Linked DNA regions of Homo sapiens. The protein of the gene in region 3 interacts with the protein of the main gene of each other region in a pairwise test. Each region holds a gene or a part of one and is shown on either strand. Other genes may lie near its edges.

Region 1 (7,029 bases), on a different chromosome or scaffold from region 3:
CAACAGCCTACTTCCCAGGCTCGGTGGTGTGCTACAGGGCCCTGGACCCAGGTTATGGGGCAGGACAGCAGTGGCTGGCTGTGGGGTGGGGCCAGGCTGGAGCCACTGCAGATGTCCCGAGGCCTTCAGAAGCTCTGCGTTCCCATTCTCTTCCCTGCCCAGACACCCGCAGACAGGCAGCCCCTCCTGAGCGACTGTAACTGTCATCCCTTTCTGAGTCTGGAGTGACTCAGGCAAGGACCTGATGAGCTGCCATCTTCCCCATTTCAGTGGAAAGCTTGATGCATCTTCCCCATTTCAATGGAAAGCTCAGAAGGTTAAGGAAGGGACGCCAAAGAAGAGGGGCTGTTAGAAGCACTTTTGCAGGCACAAATGCTGAAGGAAGGAGCGTCACTAAAACAGAAAGGCACAGCCCAACCCTTGGGTGAGGACCTTCCCCTTCCCGCATCCCCCATTCTCTGATCTGCTGACCCCTGCGCGCTTCAGGACTGTGATCACCCGGCCTCTGCTTGGAAACCACAGGCAGCACAGCCAGGCCCAGCCCTGCCTGTGACAGCATCACCGGTCCAGTGAAGGCAGCCCTTGGCCTGCACGTGGGGCCTTCCCAGGTGACCCTCGGCTCCTTCCCCAAGCCCTCACCGCCCAGGCTTGCCCCTGTTCCCCAACATTCTGCACAGGCAGCATCAGTGAGGGATGAAAGCTTTCCCAGGCCCAGCACAGGCCTCCTGGGTCCTGTTCCCCACTTTCGTGAGCCCCACAGCCCACCTCGGCCAGGCCCATCCTCTCCGGGAAGCCAGCAGCAGCCTCCTCACTGGCCTCAAGTCCTCCTTCTGCTCAGCAGCCAGAGAGGCTGCTTTAGATCAAACCACGTCTTGTCAGTCTCCTGCTTAAAGCCCTCCACTACCTTTCATCAGAAGTGGAATGAAATCCACACTCCTGTATAATCCGCCCTCTTCCCAGCTGACCTCAGCCTCATACTCTGCCACACGCACGCTGGCCTCCCTAGCTGCACCACACATACACCTGTCCTGGCGCCTTCACCCTGGCTGCTATCTGTGTCTCACTGGCAGCCTGGGCCTGGCGTGTCAGCTCTCTCCAAGGTGGGCGTCAGGCATCTGTGCCTTGAGAGCCCCCTGGGAGATTCTGAGGTGGGCTCAGCTCTGCAGCTCTGCTGGTTATTCCAGCCCCATCCAGCTGGTCACCCCACATCCTTCCAAAGCTCGCTGACCCCTGCTTGTCCCTTCCAGGGTCAGGGCACCCCTGCTCTGAGCCCTACCTTTTCCTGTTCACTTTCCTTTCTTCCCCACGGTAGGGGAGCAACGTGAGCTATAGAATTCCACAGGCGTGGGGAGTTGGGACTCCCCTTTCCCACTTCCTGGGCTTCCAGCCCCAGTGCTCCCTGGGGATGCCACAGCTCTCTGTAGGGTGGCCAGGTATGGGGAGGTCCACAAGCAGAGCCAAGACAACCTCCACCCAAGCCCACGGCCCCTCCGAGCGAGACTCACCTGCACCACCTTATAGAGGAAAGAAAAGACCAGCGACACGCACGCGTTCTTCTTGGATGTGGCAACCACTGCATGGCGGCCACAGTTAAGGAGCATTCAGAGGCTGGGGCTGCTGCCTGGAAGATCCTGGTTCATGGAGGGACCCCCTAACCCTCACAACCCTCAGAGCCTTCCCTATCCCCACTCCCAGCCGTTTACTTGGCCCATGGTGGGCTACAAAGCTCCTGGTCCAAGCTAGACCTGGGACACAGGAGTCACCAGCCAGATGCGCTCCCAGGCCCCAGGGAGCACTCACTGAGATGGAGAATCACAGGGATGGCAGGTGGCACAGGGCACCTGTCCCGGCGGCTGGGTGAAGGGCTGCCTTGAGCAGGGAGGGAGTGAGGCTCATTCCAGGAGCAGAAAGCAGGACACACTGGCCCTGCTCCTCCAAAGCTGACCTCATCATGACCCTGCTGAGGTCCAGGGTCCCCCGGCCAGACTCTGTGGCAAGCAGCCAGGGCCAATTCTGGCTTCAGCCCTTCCTGGCTTTGGAAACACAAGCCTTGGCCCATGAAATAAACCTTTCTAGAGAAACCTTGATATTTCTCTCCTGTGTAATGGAGGCCTGTGAATGAACTCACCAAGGCAATGTAGGTGAGATGTCTGGCACAGATGTTCCCTTCTGCCACAGGAGCCAGCCCCTGCCTCCCAGGGTCAGTGTGTGCTGGGCGCTTCCTATTCCTTTTTCCCTAATGGGTCCCCGGGCCGCCAGAGAAGGCTGGTTCTTCCTCTGTAGGCCCATGCACTGCACCCTGGACATCCCTGTTCATGGCACATCTGTGCTGCCTGGCTCGTCTGCCCAGGAGTGAGCTCTAGGAGGGAGGGTGGGGGCTGTATCCTCTCCCTTCCCGCCTCACCCCAGCACAGCACAGGGGCCCAGGAAAGGGACGCTGGCCCAGTCAAACGAGTGCTGGCCTCCCTCCTGCTGCCTGGCAATGTGCCCTCCCCAGATGCTTTATAAGCAGGGGCAGTGGGGGCCTCTCACCTTCTCATGGGTGCCTCTCAGCCACGGCCTTGCTGAGCACTGTCCCGGCTGGGGGTGAAACGATGTCCACTAAGCCAGAGGGGTGAGCCCTCCCTGTCTCTTCCCTAGATGCCCAGGTGTGAAATGTGGGGGCCCAACCAGAAACTGATCTGATGGCTCCTGCTGAGCTCAGACCACAGCCACCTCTCCCTCTCCCAATACCTGGGCGGCTTCAGAGGACTGTCAGTTCCCTGGGTTAAAAGCCACCTAGGCCGGGCACGGTGGCTCACGACTGTAATCCCAGCATTTTGGGAGGCTGAGGCGGGCGGATCACGAGGTCAGGAGATCGAGACCATCCTGGCTAACATGGTGAAACCCTGTCTCTACTAAAAAAATACAAAAAAATTAGCTGGGCGTGGTGGCGGGCGCCTGTAGTCCCAGCTACTCGGGAGGCTGAGGCAGGAGAATAGCGCGAACCCGGGAGGCGGAGCTTGCAGTGAGCCCAGATGGCGCCACTGCACTCCAGCCTGGGCGACAGAGCGAGACTCTGTCTCAAAAAAAAAAAAAAAGCCACCTAAGATCATCTTCAGAGCTATTCTCAGGGCCTTCCAGAGCCAGGTGAAATCTACACAGAGGCACACCACAGGGAGCCCTGGGCCAGCACGGCCCACATGGGAATGTGCACACCGGCCACCAGGAACAAATCTTCCTACAATGCAGATTCTGACGGGGCAGGGCTGGGTGGAGCCTGGGATTCTGCATTTCCAAAGGGCTCCCAGCGGATATTCTGGCCCGTTGGCCACACTGTACTGGCAAGGCCCCAAGTGTCTCCAAGAACACAGGAAAGGGCACAGAGCCCATGCCTGCTGGGAGCAATATGCACAAGTCAGTTCAACTGACCCGAATGGTCCTGCAGTGAGGGGTCGTTGTTCCCACTGAACTGTGGGAAGGTGAGGGATCCCCCATGGCTGCTGGAGCTGGGGCTCAAACGGGCTGTGAGTGGCAAAGCAGGCCCTTCCGCAGTAGTGTGGGTACTGAGATGGGCTTGCGGGTCTGCCCAAAGCTGTGGGGTGGCCAGTTAGACCTCCTGGATAGAAACTGGCTTGGCCAAGTCTCCCCATGGGCCCAAGGACAGGAAGGGTGGGGGGCTCTGAGATCTGGGCGGGGCTGTACCCCACCACCCCTCCGTGGTCCAGGCCACTTCCCCTCCCACCTGCACGATGGCCCCAGCCTACTCCCCACCTACCCATGTCCTCTCCTGTCCCCACAGTCTTGCCCCACTCAGCAGCCAGAAACCTCCAGAAGACACACATCTAAAAGCCTCCAGAGACTTCCTGTCACATTTCAGATGATGTTCTTTGAGACCCCAGACCCCGCTGACCACTCCAGCCTCGCTGCCCTACACGCCCCCTCTCCAGCCACCCCGAGTGCAGCTGTTGGAATGAGGCTCTTCCCTGCAGAGCCTTCACCCACGCCTAGTGCCTGCCCACCCCTCCAGCTGGCAGAAGCCAGGCCTCCCTGCAGGCTTCCTCCAGGGTGTCATTTCCCTTCCTGGGCCCCTGGGCTGAAGAGGTTCAAGTCACACCTGCTCCTCTCCCCACACCCATCACACATGTCATCGTGCATTGTCTGCCTGTCTCCGCAGGCAGCAGGGAGCTCCAGGAGGGCATGGCTGTGTCCAATGCTTGCGCTGTGCACAAACCAGCCCTGCTTGCAGGCGTGTGGATATGCACACACACCAACACCCACACAGGAGTCCCCTGGGAGCACCCCCAGCAAAGGGATACGATACAGGTTGTTGTGTTTGATCCACATGAAACGGACCCCCCCGTGGGCCAGGATGGGCGACAGCATCCCCTCCTCCTCCTTCTCCATCAGGATGGGCATGAAGTGCTCCACCTCTGACATGTCCACGTCGCCACGGTAGTTCCGGCAGATGAGCACCTGGGGTGGGGAAGGAAGAGAAAAGATGCTTGCATTTTCAGTTCTACAATCTGGGGGCTTGGGGCAGGGGGTGAGATGCACCACCCTGCTTCGCTCTGGGGACTCCGGTCATGGCCACTATCCGCAAAAGAGCAGGACTTGAGGCCGTTCTGATCTCCATCCCCCAGGGAATTCCTGGAGAAGAGCATCTCCCAGTGTGAATGCCCACAGGGGCCACTGCAGTTCTTCGCAGGGTGAGGGTAGAGGCGAACTCTGCAGCAAAGGTCCAGGACTGAATCACCCAGAGACATCAGGTTAAGCAATGCCTCACAAGCTCTCAATGCAGACCTTCTCAGAGCCTTTGCCGGGCCAACGCACCTTGCTCTCCCGCCTGTGTCAGGGCGCCCACTCCCGCTGAAGGTTCGTATTTACTGAAGTCCACAGGTGGCCTGAAGGGAGAAGCCCTCTTCCTGGTCTCTCTCTTTCATAGCCTGTGGGTCAGGATATACAGCATCCAGAACCCCTGTCCACTGCTGATAGGAATGGAAAATGGGACAACTACTTTGGTGTAGTCTGGCAGTTTCTCAAAAAGTGAAACCCAGAGTTACCATACGATCCAGTCATTCCTCTCTCTGGTATTTACCCAAGAGAAATGAAACCACATGTCTGCACAAACACTAGCACGAGAATCTTAACAGCAGCTTTAATTGAAACAGACCCAGACTAGAAACAATGCCAATGTCCTTCAGCAGGTGAACTAGAAACAAACTGTATCCGTGCACACCATGAGAAGCATGCCTCAGCAACGGAAGGGATCGGACTCCCGATACACAGGCGCATCAGAATCACTGTGCTGGCTGAGAGAAACCAGACAAACGAGAGCTCATCCTGCATGACTGCACGTGTATAAAATCCTAGAAAATGGTGATGAAAAACACATCGGTGGGTGCCTAGGGATGGGGCTAGACAGCAAAGGGGTGTGAAGAAGCTTTCGGGGGCGATGGAATGTGTGGTTATGGCTTCCCACATGACTGAGCTCATCAAATTGTACACTTTAGATAAGTGCAGGTTATTAATGTAAATTATACCTCATTAAAGAATAAAAAGGAGGTCGGAAGTTTTGCTAGCCTGGGCATGGCTGCGGTTGGAGATGCTGCCTGGAGCAGCTGCAGCTCTTGGGGCCTGCAGGACAGCCAGCTGCAGGACTCAGCAACATGCTGAGAAGGCCATTGCGGCGCTGACCATCCTGGGAACCACCTGCCTCAGAACTTGGCATTTCATCACACGCTGCCTTTATTCTCTCAAGGCGAGACTGGGGGTGGTGCGGGGTGGCACCTTCCTTTCCTAGTGTCTGCTTCGTGGCCTGTGGAACTGATTGGAGGGAGGCAGGTGATGACGTGTTGAGGGAACAGCCCCTCCCCCTGCTGTCACTCTTGACCCCCCAGGTCCTTCCTCACAAAGGGTGACAGGGCTCTTCCTACACAGAAGCCAGACGGGGTCTCTCCCCCACTGCTGAACTGCCACTTACCCCAGCCTCCCCGGCACTGAGAACAAAGCCCAAGCCCGTCCCCATGGCTCCCAAGGACCAGCGTGGTCTGGCTCCTCACAGCCCCTCTGACGCCTCTCTGCCTGCGCTGCCCTGGTTCACTCTGCTCCAGCCTGGCCCCTTAGCTGGTCTCTGAGTGATCCACATCTGTTCCCACCTCGGGCCTTTGCCCTGACCTGGCTCTTCTCATTTCTCAAGCCTCAGCTCAAATAACACCTCCTCTAGGAAGTCCTCCCAGCTGGGCGCGGTGGCTCACGCCTGTAATCCCAGCACTTTGGGAGGCTGAGGCAGGCGGATCATCTGAAGTCAGGAGTTTGAGACCAGCCTGACCAATATGGTGAAACCCTGTCTCTACTAAAAATACAAAATTAGCCAGGCGTGGTGGTGCATGCCTGTAGTCCCAGCTACTTGGGAGGCTGAGGCAGGAGAATCACTTGAACCTGGGAGGCAGAGGTTGCAGTGAGCCGAGATTGTGCCATTGCACTCCAGCTTGGCTGACAGAACGTAACTCCATCTCAAAAAAAAAAAAAAAAAAAAAAAAAAAAGAAATCCTCCCTGCTTGCTCTGGCTGAGATCATGTCCCATCCCTCTGAACCCTGACCCCTGCTTTATCCCTATCACCTGGTGCATTAAACATTTATTTCTATCCTCCTTTACTGTCTGACATCCCCTGAGAACAGCAACTACTCCTGTCTCATTCACAGCTGTTTTCCAGCACCCAGAAAGGGGCCTGGACCATAGTAGGTGCTCAGTAAACATTTGTGGAGTGAAAACAGGGGTGAGGAGACAAAGGAGGCGAGGATAACGTCCAGGTCTCTTGTGCAGATGGCTGAATGGGTGATGGCATCACTGAAATGGAAAGAGAGCAGGTACAGGGAGTGCATTTAGAAGAATGCTGAATTTATGGTGGCGGCGGGACCTCTCTGGTGTCTCAGAGGCCACTAGATCTCCAGAGAAATGCTGTGAACAAAATTGAGAGTCACTGGCCCATGGACATGAGTCAAAGCCCACCTGGGAAGAGTGACAGCATGGGGAGGCACGCGTAGGCC
Region 2 (7,029 bases), on a different chromosome or scaffold from region 3:
ACTCAAGTATTTATAAACACAAAAGACTTACTGTGATATAGAAGTGTAACGAAATGCTGTTAACAGAATATTCTTGACTTATAGAAAGGACCCTGTTAGAAACTACTTTGTACCCCTGCCAATAATGGCGTGGTTAAGTAATTTGAAGAATACCTTACTGGCCCAGAGCTAAATAAATATACACTCCACCTCCCTCAACTCCTTCAAATTTAAAGTGAGCTTGTTATTCAACAACAATAAAAACTAAATTTCTTCAAAATACAGAAGAGAAAAAGCAGTGTTTAAACCCAAACACCATTAAATATTTTTTCTTTTAAGTTTTTATTATTTAAATACACCATACTAGAGCAAATGTCTCTGAAAATATCACAAATAAAAGATTTTTTTTTTTCTTCATTCAGCAAATTAGAAGTAGGGGGAATTTTCTACACAGTAGCTGCTATGAGCCTGATTTTTTTTTCCAAATTTTTTTCTTTTTTTCATTCTTTTTTTTTTCTTTGCCATGGGAGTAGCAACATTAGGACAAAAACACTTACATGCATACATACATTGTATTTTACAGAGATACAATAAGTGTTTGTGATAGAATATCACAAAAGCCACATCTCTTTCCTTTATCTCATGGTCAGTTTTGATTGAAACACGTTTCCTTACAACACTTAAATATACAAAGAGCAAATAGAATGTTGTTAAGGTAAAACACAGGGTACAAACTCTGGCCAGTGCCCTGCTAATTGTTAATGAGGGTAGAAAGCAGATTTGAATGCTTCTTTTAATTAGCTTCATTAGTCATTTCCCTCCCCCCCAGCTCCCTCCCCCTCCCCAAGATGTCCTCTGGTGGATCTTTTTTCATTTTCTCTACAGTCTCCCATTAGCCCAGGTTCATGGAGTCCTTAATGTTCATATTCAGTCATTTTAATACACCAATAAATGCGGGAAGGGCAATCAAGACTAAAGAAGGTGCAATGGCATGGAGCTGGCACTGGTGCTAGCTACAAAGGTGACTTGTCTACTGAAGACACATGGGATCCACCTGTGATGAACAAATCTGAGATGAAGGCACGCATTCTGCATTACTCTGACCTTTTAGCAGACCTGCAAGAAATAAAAACGGGCATCTTAGCTAAAATGCTAAATTTGAGAGATATTAAACTCAAACATGACTGCTTTTGTCTTCCCCACATTCACTAATCTTCTTTTATTAGATTACTTTCCAACTGTGACTTGATAGAGGCTTTCTATGCTACTTACTCTGGCAGTGAAGAACTAAAGCATAACATTTTCTGCAGTTTTACTAGCAAAGAAAATGAGACAGTAAATGGACGCTCAGAAAGTTTCTGGTGTAAAGTACTACAATTAATTGCTTAACTCTGTTAAGAGCAAGTGTCTTTCCAAAAGGAATGTAACATCTTGCCCAGCAGTGGGATCTTGAATTTTTTAAATAGCGGGGACATTCCAAGACAAGTTCCTACCTAGGAAGTTTTGGGTTCATATGCTTAACCGTGTAACCTTTTGGAATGTTGCTTAAACTGCTTGTGTCTCAGTTTCCTCATCTTTAAAGAAGGGATAATGACACTGTTATGATAATTACATAATACATATGGGAGCACTTTCAACAGTGCTTGGCCCTTAATAAAAGTTCAACAAATACTGGCAGTTATCATTATTATTCCGATATCCCCATGTGAAAAATATTCACCCATATTGGTACTACCTATAGGTGTGTGTCTATATGAAAATTTCTATGTACAAATATTCACATATTTTTCACTATTTCTTATCTGCTATGTCACTTAATAGCTACACAAATATGTGATTCAATACATGCAATGTGTTAATGACCTGTGATAGATAAAAGAACATAGTTCAATGCAAGGGTGGCTTCAATGTCTAAGTCAGAAATGGAAATCCACACACTTGTCAAATACAATCTGTTTGCAATTACCAAAATGAAATAATACATATTAGGTTGTTATGGTTTTTAAATGACATTTTGAGCCTCCCAGGAAGTTCTCGTTTCACCCTTTCCCTAACTTACAAAAAGCCTGTAGTCTATTAGGAACTGCAACCCCCTACTTCCAAGCTAATTAAAGTGGTGAAGGCTTAATTCCCCAGAGTGGAAGCTCAGTGTGAGAAAGGTAATTTGTCTGTCCAGAACAAAGATGCAGCAGCAGCCAGCAAGCATATTTAATAAATGAGCATCAAATGTCTTCTACGATGGACACACACAACACCAATTATGTAACTATGGGGGAACTGCGAAGTGACATGTAGACTAGAACACTCACTAAATTTTCCTCCAACTAAAGAGATGTGATCTAACTCCTGTTCCACTGAAAACTGAAAAGCACAGGTAATTCTAGATGGCACCATCACACTTTTGAGTGGAAGAAAAAAATTCCAGAACAGGCAGCAATCTACAAAAGAAAAAATTAGCCACAATTCCTGATTTACATAACCCTCTAGAAGGCAGCATTCTCCCAAAGCTAGCCAAGCCTCCTTTAAGTGATATAGGTTATAAAATGTTGTAGATCCTTGAACACTAGTGGCCTGAGATTTCAGTCCATCTGAAATGCAAGATTTCAATCACTGTATGATTTAAAAGCTTAAAATTATTTTTCTTGGAATATACAACAGCCAATGATGCAGAACAACAACTACACTACACAGCCCAGACCCTGGGAACAAATCTCAGAATAAAAGTTTAAAGGGACCAGACAATGGGGGCCTATGTTTTCCATGCAATTAACTGCCTTTAAAGAAGGGATGTTCGAATAATCAACTCATTGCTTTTAAGCCAGAGGATCCTTGAGTATATTTACCACGCATAATACACCAAAAATGTAATTGATTCTGCGAATAGAAGGAAAATGGCCAAAATAAATGTCCAATTTTCCCTACCAAAAATATGGAGAACGAGAGAGGAGAAAATAATAAAACGAAGCCATTTGTCATTTCTCCCCATCTCATTGCCTCCAGAAAAGAAACGCCACAGGGTTTTGGGAAAATAATTTTAAAGCCTCTCCAGTTCCAAAAAGCAGTTTATGTTCCACCAGGAAGTATGTTTTCATTAACTCTTCCCCCTTGCCCTCTCATTAATATCTCTCTGGACCACGTTCAGCTTGCCCAAAACCTTTATTTATAAAAACTACCTTGTGAATTGACCGTGCTCATGGTGAGCTGGGCACCAAGGGCAAAAATGTGAGACACTTACGCCAACAGGGAAATGTTCTTAATTAACAGCACCCCCAAAACACAGCTTCTCACCAATGTCTGACAAGAACATTTCCATAAGTTGTATTTCCTTATGCCTTTTAAGAGCTATTAATTTTTGAAGGCCACCTGTCTCTTTTTTGGCCTCCAACATTAAGAAAACATACACTAATAGGTTCTTATTCATTGCCTAAAATATAGTGTTCCAAAATGAATACCCTACCACTGCCATCCTGGAAAAGGTGTGGAAAACAGATTTCAATGAAAGGCATAAGACATGTAATCTCATCAACAGGTAAACCTGGTTTTTCTGCAGTTCTCCTCCCTAACACCTCTAAATTTATGCCATCTTATACTATAAAAGATGGTATGAAATCCTGCTCATATTTCTTAGGTGTGCTTTATACTTGGTCCCTACCTAACACTGCTATTGCCTGTATTCAGTGCTTCACAATCTAGCAACATTTTCCATCTCATCTCTACATCCTTTCATTCTCACCATGCATGCTGGTGAACTGCAACAATCATTTTTTTGTATAGTACTTTGCTAAGTCAGAGAAAGAAATGGTATAAAACCAGCAACAAAGTGAAGCTCTAACTCGGGGAAAAATTAAGCTTTTACATCAGAAGGAGTGGAGAGAAGGTCTACCATTTTATTTCTAGCATATTTTTTCTTTTTTGCTACCAAGTGTAACTACAAACAGCTTTACCTCTATTCTGAATAGGTATCTCCAAATATTTATGTTGCTCATTCATTGTTCTCAACTCTGCCCTGCAGATTCACTTCATTAGAATCCAAATCACAAAAATCTTTAAGCATTTATATGTCTTGGCACTCCTTGAAGAAGCTTGAAATACCTCATCAGCAGTGACTGGTTAGTTTGCAATTAAAAAGTTCAACTTTTATTCTTAAAATGGTTATTCTATGTAGCTCCCCATATTAGTAAATTAAAGTGCACATAATGTCATGTAATTAACACTAAGAAACAGAACATACATTTAAAATTACCTCATAAACTTGAGCAAGGGAAAAGGGCAAATATAAGCATCAAAATATGGCAGCATAATTTTAATGGTTAAAAGTTTTCAAATATTTGTCAAACCCCCACCTCCACCACCGCACTAAGAAAATGCATTACAGAAGACAAAAAAGTCTATTTTTTTCCCCGAGATTTTTGAAGCTTGCTAAATTCCTATTTGCAGATAAATGTTGTTTTTTTTGTGATCCTTACAACAGACATTAATGAAGTTCCTATTGTAAATCCATAAAGAATTACCAAGTGAAGTGTGCACTTTTTGTTTCAATGCAATAACTCAGTGCTGTGTGATTGCCTGGGTTAATGATGAAAAAGTCAAACATACTATCAGAGCTGATGGAAAAATCTATCACCAATCTGAAATTAAAATTCATCTGTGGTCAATAAGATTTAATATCCATGCAAGTGGCGCTGTAAAGAGTAAATGAATCAATGTCATCAATACATAATCAGTATGAAATATGATGTGAATAAAATTATGCACACGAGTCATACATTTCACTCTTTTCTGGGCCGGTGTGGAATGAACAGTCTCTTAACTGAAGGTTGACAGTAATTGTTACAAATTAGGCACAGCAGTTATCAAAATGCACTCACTTGCATAGCTATAGGACTTATTAAGGAGATTAAAATAGATCTAAAACTATCCAGTACTGGGGGTGCTGGACAACTGTTGATCACCAATTTTCCCTCTGGAATATCTTCTAATACTACATGATTTGTATACTTGTATAATTTCCTAATTTTTAATTCTGGTACAAGGATTTTCAAGTTGTGGATCAAGAATCAAGATACATAATTTCTAATGGCACTATTAATGGCACTAAGCGGGTTAGCAAGAACAAGAACTTGGTTTTAAAAGCCATAACTTATTCAAATGTTATGGTACCGCCAATGAACAAAAATGCCCTCTTATGAAGTTACAGAATGTTTTGTAAAATTACTCTTCTAAAAAGTAAATGAATTGTAAATTGGGTTTGGAAGGCAGGTGTCCAGATTGCTATTCCTAACGCAGAAATCATTCTTTCATAACAAAGATCTTTATTCTCTTTTCCTACCATAAATGTTCTAATTTTTCTTCCACAATAACCTATCACATCATGTTTCTGAATTTCAAAATTGTCAAATGGAATAAATAACCAGTTATATGGAAGCTTTACATTTTGTTTGCTTTTGCATGTGATAATCTTATGTTCAACGTGAGTGAAGCTACAGATATAACAAAGTCAGGATTTTTTTTTTAACTAGAAAGGATTCACAATTTAATCAGCTATCCTACTTCTGAACACTCTATGTACAACTAGTAATCTACATTTCTTTAAAAGGGCATGCAAAAATACAACCACCCAAGAAAACTCTCTTGCTAGGTTAAGAGGTTGAACCTTCCAACTTGCTCTAATAAAGCTTATTAGTAATTGCTGGGTATTCACCTTCTGGTCTGGCAGTAGTGGATTGCTCTGAAGTGAATTCAAATGGCCATTGATGAGAGCTGTAGGTCTATCATGTTCACAAAATAAACTGCCATTGATGTAGTGAAACCGATCTCCCGGGACCAGGCGATTCCGGCAGGTAGAGCATGTAAAACACTGAAAGGGAAAAACAAACCCACTGAAAACAAGGTAAAAATTAAGTCTTTTTTTGGTCACAAGTTTATAACCTGTTATTAAGCAGGTATCTGTCAAGTACAGAGACACTTAGGGTTTAGCGTTTTTTCTTCCTTTGACAGATCTCCAGAAAACAGTAAGCCAAATTGCTATCAACTGGACCAGGCTAAATGGGGACAAATCCAAATACATGTGTACTTCTGTCTGTGGCATAGGGGAAGCGTGGTCTGTGCATGTGGATGTGTAACCATCACTGCCATGCTACAATTTCAATCATTCCTTCAAGTGTCTGCAGCTTGAGAAAACAGTTCATACCAAGGAGAAATGCTTTGCCCCCATGTAGGTAGGAAAGGTATGATTTTTTTTTTAAAAAAAAAAGAGAGATGCAAATACTACCTTAAGATGATACACATTGCCTTGCGCCCTCATGACGAGTTCACTCGCAGGAATCGACTGTCCGCAAGCGCTGCAAGCACCGCTATTTCCAAATAACCTGAAACAAAGAATAACGGTTGACACCAGTGAATAATCCTAAACCAAAGAAAAAGAAAGAAAAACACCCCCAGACTCTGGGCATCCCTTTGGAATGCATTTGACAGGCTGAATTCTTAGGCTCAAGCCTCAGATTTTCTGAGTGATTTACATAATCTGGGAAAAATCCTTTTTGTGGGACAACAAACTTCTGCCTACCGCAGAGGATGCCCCAGATTTAATCAAAATATTGACTTACACCTCTAGCAAATACAATTCTGTTCTACACACATTTTATCAGATTACTAGGTTCATCATAAAAAAAAAAAAGATACAATTCATGACTGGAGTTTAAATGCATTGTGTCCTTGAAATTATATGAAGAACTCTTTTGTACTTTAATCATATCTTCAGATATGAGTCATCAAAAGGGTTAAGAGGATTTGATTGTATATCTAAGAAGACATCATGCTCAGTGTATTGAAACTCCCGTAAACCTCCATCAGTGCAGACTTTCCATTAGAAACTCTCTGCTATCCAGGTTGATATATAATGTGTATGGGTTAACCTTTTCAATCATGGTGTCAACACTTAAGATTTGCCTCTGCTCATCTCTTTCATCCTAACCTTCTCTCTCTCTTGATAATGAAATGCTTGCTCCAACTTCCCTCTATCTGCTCCTGAGTCCACAATTTAGATTACTT
Region 3 (6,639 bases):
TGAGCTCCTTGAAGGCAGAATTCTGATATTATTTATTTGTATGTGCTCAGAAGCCAGCATAGTTCCTGGAATGCTGCCAGGTTTAGCAAAAACCAAAACAAAACATATTTGTTGTTTGTCTGAAATTCAAATTTAACTGGGTGTCCTGTATTTATTTCTTGCAACCCTATTCCTGGCACATAGCTAACCTCAATAAATATTGATGAGTGAGAGGATGAATGAATGACTAGCACAGTACCAACAAATGGAGAAATAAACTGGTAAAAACTTCAATTGACCATATAAAAGACACTCATCTAAATTATGCCTAACAATCACAGAACAACAACACTGTGTCTGGTTAACATACTACCTTTTAAAATCTGACAGTCTGGCTTTGATTGAAGATGCATTTTCTATCCATGCTTTGTCAGCCACTTTTACTCAGTGTCCATGTGGGAAGAATACTAATCTGGTAATGAAGGTGTTTTGTTCCAACAATTTCACATCTTAATTCTGCACATTTCTGATCTCATATGTTTAATTGTTTATTAGTGTGTACCAGTTGTACAAGAAAATTGATTTTGGGTGGTATATGGGTTTCAGTCATTCTGAAGTACAATCATCTCTGTATCTTCCTTTAAAATTGCCAAAATTGTGCTTTTACTCCAGCTGAACCCTGGGGTTTTGGGTAAAGTCATTCACTGTGATTATACCATCAGGGCCAATTCTGTTTGGAAAAAGGTATATCTGCAGTTAGTTCATTGACAGTTAATCTTAAGAAAGACAATATGCAAACAACTCTCATTTCACATTAATTCTGCTGTTGCTCCTTTTTCTCTTTTTTTGTTTTGTTTTGTTTTCTGAGACAGGGTCTGGCTCTGTCATCCAGGCTGGAGTAACTGGTGCAATCTTGGCTCACTGCAACCTCTGCCTCCTGGGCTCAAGCTATTCTCCCAATTAACTGATACAGACACATACCACCACGCCTAGCTAATTTTTGTATTTTTAGTAAAGACAGGGTTTCACCAGATTGCCCAGGCCGGTCTTGAACTCCTGAGCTAAAGCCATCCACCCACCCTAGGGTTACAGGTGTGAGCCGCCATGACCGGCCCTCTTTTTCTTTTAACCTTTGACTGCCTGCTTCTCCTCCTCCTCCTTCTCCACTTCTGTTCCACTGGTCATAGCTAAGCGTGAGTCAGAGTTACTAGGGGGGCTTATAAATACACAGATTCCTGGGCTCTGGCCCTAGAGTTTATGATTCCATAGGTCCAGGGTGTAGCCTGAGATTCTGCATTTCTAACATCTTCTTAGGTGCTGCTGCCGCTACTGCTAGTCTCAGTAGCACTGAAAGAATTGTTTTCCTATATCATTCTTTTCCTTCCTCTTCTCCTTCCCTTTCCCGTTTTCTTTCAGATCATCCATATTTCATGTTTCTCACAATACTTTTCTGTTTCCAGAGCAGTATAATACAATAATCTCACTATCTTGGCCAGCTAGATTTCTTTTCCTGGTATTCTTTCACCTCCACTTGACAAAAGTTAACTTACACTTCCTGTTCCATGTAGTTTAGCATCCTGCTGACATGTGATGCAGAGATCTCCCCATCCACTTTGGCAATATACGTGTAGAGAAACTGGAAGGTGCTGAACGGGATCCGGGGCGACCCACCATTATGGTCACATGATAAGACCTCACACACTATCTTGAGAGTTTTGGTAATAGTCTATAAAAGTTAGATAAAATGAGGAGAAAGTTACTCTTCCAGGCAATATTCCTGAGATCGGTTTAGATACAAGAAAGAAAACAAAAATATTGCTCTTATAAAATGAAGTGGGAACAATTTAAGATTCTAGAAAGCTTGAAATTTTTACATTCAAATGTCACTAATTCATTCTAAAAAATATTAAGTATTGGGTATCTTTATTTCTTTTCTTTCTTTGTTGGAAGACTACTCAAGGAATTAAATTTATACATTCCTAAGTACTTTAAGATATTTGTTACTTTAGCCCGAATAACCTCACTAAAGGAGGGAAGTTGATTTGCATTCTATATAATTAGAATTATTTCTTCTTATTACCCTCCAGTCTTATCTCTAAAGGGCTGAGATAGATGGTCTAGCCTATATAGTCCAGCAGGATACTTGTGGCAATGACACAGTAGAGGAGAAGAAGGTAGGAGAAGGGTAATTTCCCCAGGAAAATGGAGTCCCAGGAAGATACTGGAAAAATGTTCTTAAACATCAAGATAAACGTTCCTCTAAAGCATCTGGGTCCATCTAAATAGAATCAGCTAGTGCTTTATTTCATACTACATAATACTAACCCTTTTATTGCTGGGGAAATATTGGTTGACAATGAGTGCCAGGAATTTTAATAGAAGGGTTACTACAGAAGCAAACCCTCCTTGCAATGAAACTTGAACATTAAAGGAGCATGCTCAGAACTCATCTCATGTCTTTAAATAACCCACCCTTTGAATAAATGTTACAAGCAAAAGAGTTGTGAAATGAAGGTCACCAACAGATCTTGGTGGTTTACTGAAACTGATGATGTACGGATCATCCTGACACTCTTCCAGGGATCAGTGAAAGATCAGTTCTGAGTGGTGACTTAGGGTGAGTGAAAAAGCAGCTGCTGTATCTTCCCACATGATTAGTAGAGGAGACTTGTCCTGCCTTAGCAGTTGATGTCTGCTGTTCTCCTCTCATCCTCTCCCAGAACAGAATGATTGCCTAGATGAGGCTTCTCTAACTGTGGTGTGTGTTACCCAGGAGCGTAAGTCTATGTCAGGAGGTACTGAGGATGTGAATAAACTCTTCCTTGAGTGATAGTTTTACTTGATGGCAAGTAATTTAAACATAATTTGTAATAATTATTAATTTTAATTGAGTTAATATTTCAAATTTGATTCTTTACATTTAATAAGCATTGTTATTTTATAAAACAGAATCTTCAATACATGATGTCAAAAAAAATTGAGTTTGAGGCAGGCCACCTTCCTTTCCTCTCCTCTGCCCCTGGGGGTCCTCTCATGGAAATTGTTGTGAAACACTGCATCTTCTACTCACTTTCACTTAATTCAGAGCAGGTGGGAGGGCAGGCATGGGGCCAACTAGTATATATGAGGCTGTCTGGGAGGATGGTAAATCATGCATGTGAGATGAGGTCAGTGGGAGAATGGTTTGGGGTAGATTTGCAAGCACACTCTGAACATTATAATTTCCACCCACAGCTCACCCTGTTTCTGTAAAAAACAAACAAATGAACAAAAACAACCCTCTGCACCCCTAATGCTTTGTTCTGTTGCCCTCTCCCATGGGGTGCTGGTATGGGCTGAATTGTTCCCCCTAAAGTTCATGCCAAAGCCTTAACCCCAGAACTGGAGAATGTGATTGTATTTGAACATACGACCGTTAAAAAGATAAGTTAAAATGAAGTTAGTAGGGTGTCTTTATAAGAAGAGGAGTTAGGATATAAAGAGAGAGCCACCAGACATGTAGGCACAGAGGAACACAGTTTGAGAAGCTGGCCATTTTTAAGCCAAGGAGAAATGCCTCAGAAGAAAGCAATCCTGCTGACAGCTTGTTCCCAGAACTGTCCTCCAGAACTGAGAGACAACAAATTTCTGTTGTTCAAGCCACCAAGTCATGGCAACAAACTAACATAGCGGCTTTCAACCCTAAACATCATCTTTTATTGATTATTCAAACTACAAACCTTCAAATTCTACTGCCTCATAAGATTTTTAAGTATTTTTAAAGATTTAATAAATGGATGAGTGTATAAATAACTCTTTGGACTGGAGCTATTTGGTAAACTGACATAAACCTAAAGTAAACAGATCTTCATTCTCTTGCACAATATTTTTTTGGGATCCGCTTCACAGACATAATCTTTAAGCATCTTGCGAGCTTCATTTTCAAAGTTAGAGGTGAAAGCCTTGAAATGTAAATCGTTTGCTAACAAATATGTCATTCCTTCCAGTGAACATGATTATTTTCTACATACGTGATCTCTTCCTTTTTTAATAATCAGTTCAGTGGAACAGGAGGTGGCATAGGCCAGTCCAGAGGAAGGAGTGCTGAAGGGAGGAGGAATACAGGTCTGCATGCCATCGCATTCTGAATAATGTGTATTAGACGCAGAGAGCTCAAGATGGAGTAAATGTACCTATTACCTACCAGAGTAAAAATTCCTGTTACTAGATCTTCTACAAGGAACAAACTGGCTTTTCTGAATGGCATAGAGATCTTGTCTTGCTATTGAATTGGCAAAGGAAAGAGAAATTCTGGGCTTGCCTCTAAGGATATATGAATTAACTAGGATGCAAGGTCTCCACCAGATGGTGACCCCTGACTTAGTCTCAGCTATAATAAAATACCTTAGACTGGGTAATTTATAAACAACAGAAATGTATTGCTCACAGTTTTGGAGTCTGGGAAGTCCAAGACCAAGAGGCCAGCAGATTTGCTCTCTGGTGAGGGCCTGTTCCTCATGAATGATGCCTTCTATGTGTCCTCACTTGGTGGAGGGGCAACTTTTATAAGGGCACTAATCCCATTCATGAGGGCTCCACCCTCATGACCCAATCAACTCCCAGAGGCCCTACTTTTAAGGCCATCACCTTGGAAGTTGAGATTTCAATATATGAATTTTGGGAGAACACAAACATTCACACCGTACCACTGGCCAACCCCACATTTAAGATCCCAGAAACAGTCCAGCTCCAGCATGATAGAAATGAATATAAGGGTATTGATTACTGGTTTCATAGGACACCCTTTATTTGCAGATTTAACCTCCAGGCTGACTTTATCTCTAGGGGTTCTTTGACATGGGGATGATGAGGAGCAAAGTCAGATATGTCAAGGCCTCTTAGAATTGGAGGAGCTCACTGTTATTCAGAGGTGGGCCTGAGGGTGTCTCAGAGGAAGCAGAGAAGTGGGGATAGAATCACAGGATGTCAGAGGTAGATGAACCTCATGGAATATTGAATCCCACCTCCTTATTTTAGAAGGGAAGTAGAAAGATTCAATTCACCTCATGGTTTCCCCTCTCCAGTTTGGGAGGCAGGTACATCAGAGGAAACCTAGCATCTACACCGTGGGCTAAGCAGAGGGAGGGTTGGAATCTGACTTTCCAAAGTCACTCTTTGTTACTGTGAGGTATGGGGATAAGGGAAGAACTCAGACACACCACACACTGGTGAGGGTCTGTGAAGTAGACCACCAGAGCCAGGGAGCAGATAGGACAGCCTGGCAGAGAATCAAGGAGGCCCTCGACACCATTGAGAACTGAAATGAGCCAGTTGGGGAGGCATCATCAGCCTTTCACCAGTCCGGGAGAGACGAGACCAAAAACTTAAGCTGCAAGCAGCTAGCGACCAGACAGACAGGCATTACCATGGAGACCAGAGATGCCAGGGAAGACTAAGGGATGTGAGAAACCCTTCACTTGACTGCTCTGTGGTCCTAGAGTCAGCTCTTTCTGCCTACATTCAACTGCCATCTTGGAGAAGAGAGCGTGGTGAGGAAAAACCTGAGATACTGGGAAATTTACCTTTAGGCTGTTTCAGTTACTGCATCAGACTAAAATTTCAGGATTGGATTGAATTTATTTATTTTCTTATTTGACCCTTTGTGGGTGGGGTAGACCAAGAAGATCCAAATTAACTACAGATAAAATTTTAAAGGTATATTTTCCCCCAAAAACGTCTCCAAATGTGGTGTGAAAAAAATCTGTAACCCTATGAGAATTTAATAAAATATGTTCATTTTTTATCTTCCTGTTTGTGATTTTCCCCAGTCCTGACTGACAACTCATAGGCCTCTGCTGCTTACTTTCCTTTCCTCCTCAGAGGATAGTGATTTATTCAGTAATAAATGCTATAAAGGACAATGAAGAAAGTGCCACAAATGTCCTCTTGTTTACTTCTCTCTAAAGAAATGATTATGATGAAGGCTGTAGGGGAATCTATAGGAAATTTGGACTACAATATTTCCACTAAATTTTCTCAGAAACAAACCTGTCAAATATGTATTCCAAGCATATTTGAGAAGAACAAGATTATGTTTAGATATGCTGAATGATTCAGACTACCTTTTCATACCATTTGGTTTTGGCAGAGGCAATTATTTTCTCAATAATTTTCAAACTTGTATGTATCTCAGGGATTCTTTTAAAAAAACACGTTTTTGATTCATTTTAAGTTATTTTAACAATGTTTAGCAATGTAAGTCCACATATAAGATACCCAAGCTTTAAATATCTATACATATAAGCTGATTTCAGCATCTTTGGCTTCAAAACAGTAAAATTGCATTTCCAATATCAAACAAGTCAAATTTGGAAAAGGCATAAATCTGTATGAACATCCTGCATCCATGGAGATGTCATGACTAAATTCAGAAATAGCCTCATCTCTCTTTTTTTTTGCTTTCTTATGTCTGAGTTCTGCATCCAATTCTGTTTATTACATAGTTTTCGATAAGATTGTACCCCTTTTAAACAGTGTCTATTGATATATATTCTAGGTGTCTGGAAGTCTTTTTCTACAGTCGGCTCTTGGTTGTCTCTGGGAATATGAATGGAAGGAGCGGAGTGAAAATAAATCTGAGGGCAATATTCATAAATAATCCAAGAGCTACACTGTAGTCAA

What was found. Proteins that work in one complex are often made in the same cells at the same time.
Region 1: the proteins of ROPN1 (region 3) and AP1M1 interact in binary tests that used the Homo sapiens proteins (3 or more experiments, as listed by UniProt).
Region 2: the proteins of ROPN1 (region 3) and LMO4 interact in binary tests that used the Homo sapiens proteins (3 or more experiments, as listed by UniProt).

Annotation. Positions count from the first base shown.
Region 1 is NC_000019.10:16,200,885-16,207,913, reverse strand, and holds part of AP1M1 (AP-1 complex subunit mu-1), read right to left. Parts: intron 4,456-7,029; coding exon 4,299-4,455; intron 1,574-4,298; coding exon 1,506-1,573; intron 1-1,505. UniProt on the Homo sapiens protein: Subunit of clathrin-associated adaptor protein complex 1 that plays a role in protein sorting in the trans-Golgi network (TGN) and endosomes.
Region 2 is NC_000001.11:87,338,854-87,345,882, reverse strand, and holds part of LMO4 (LIM domain transcription factor LMO4), read right to left. Parts: intron 6,348-7,029; coding exon 6,251-6,347; intron 5,837-6,250; coding exon 5,681-5,836; intron 1,096-5,680; coding exon 1,087-1,095; 3' UTR 1-1,086. UniProt on the Homo sapiens protein: Transcription cofactor. Plays a role in establishing motor neuron identity, in concert with MNX1, acting, at least in part, to disrupt LDB1-LHX3 complexes thereby negatively modulating interneuron genes in motor neurons.
Region 3 is NC_000003.12:123,968,513-123,975,151, forward strand, and holds the end of ROPN1 (ropporin-1A), read right to left. Parts: intron 1,706-6,639; coding exon 1,530-1,705; intron 710-1,529; coding exon 643-709; 3' UTR 503-642; downstream 1-502. UniProt on the Homo sapiens protein: Important for male fertility. With ROPN1L, involved in fibrous sheath integrity and sperm motility, plays a role in PKA-dependent signaling processes required for spermatozoa capacitation.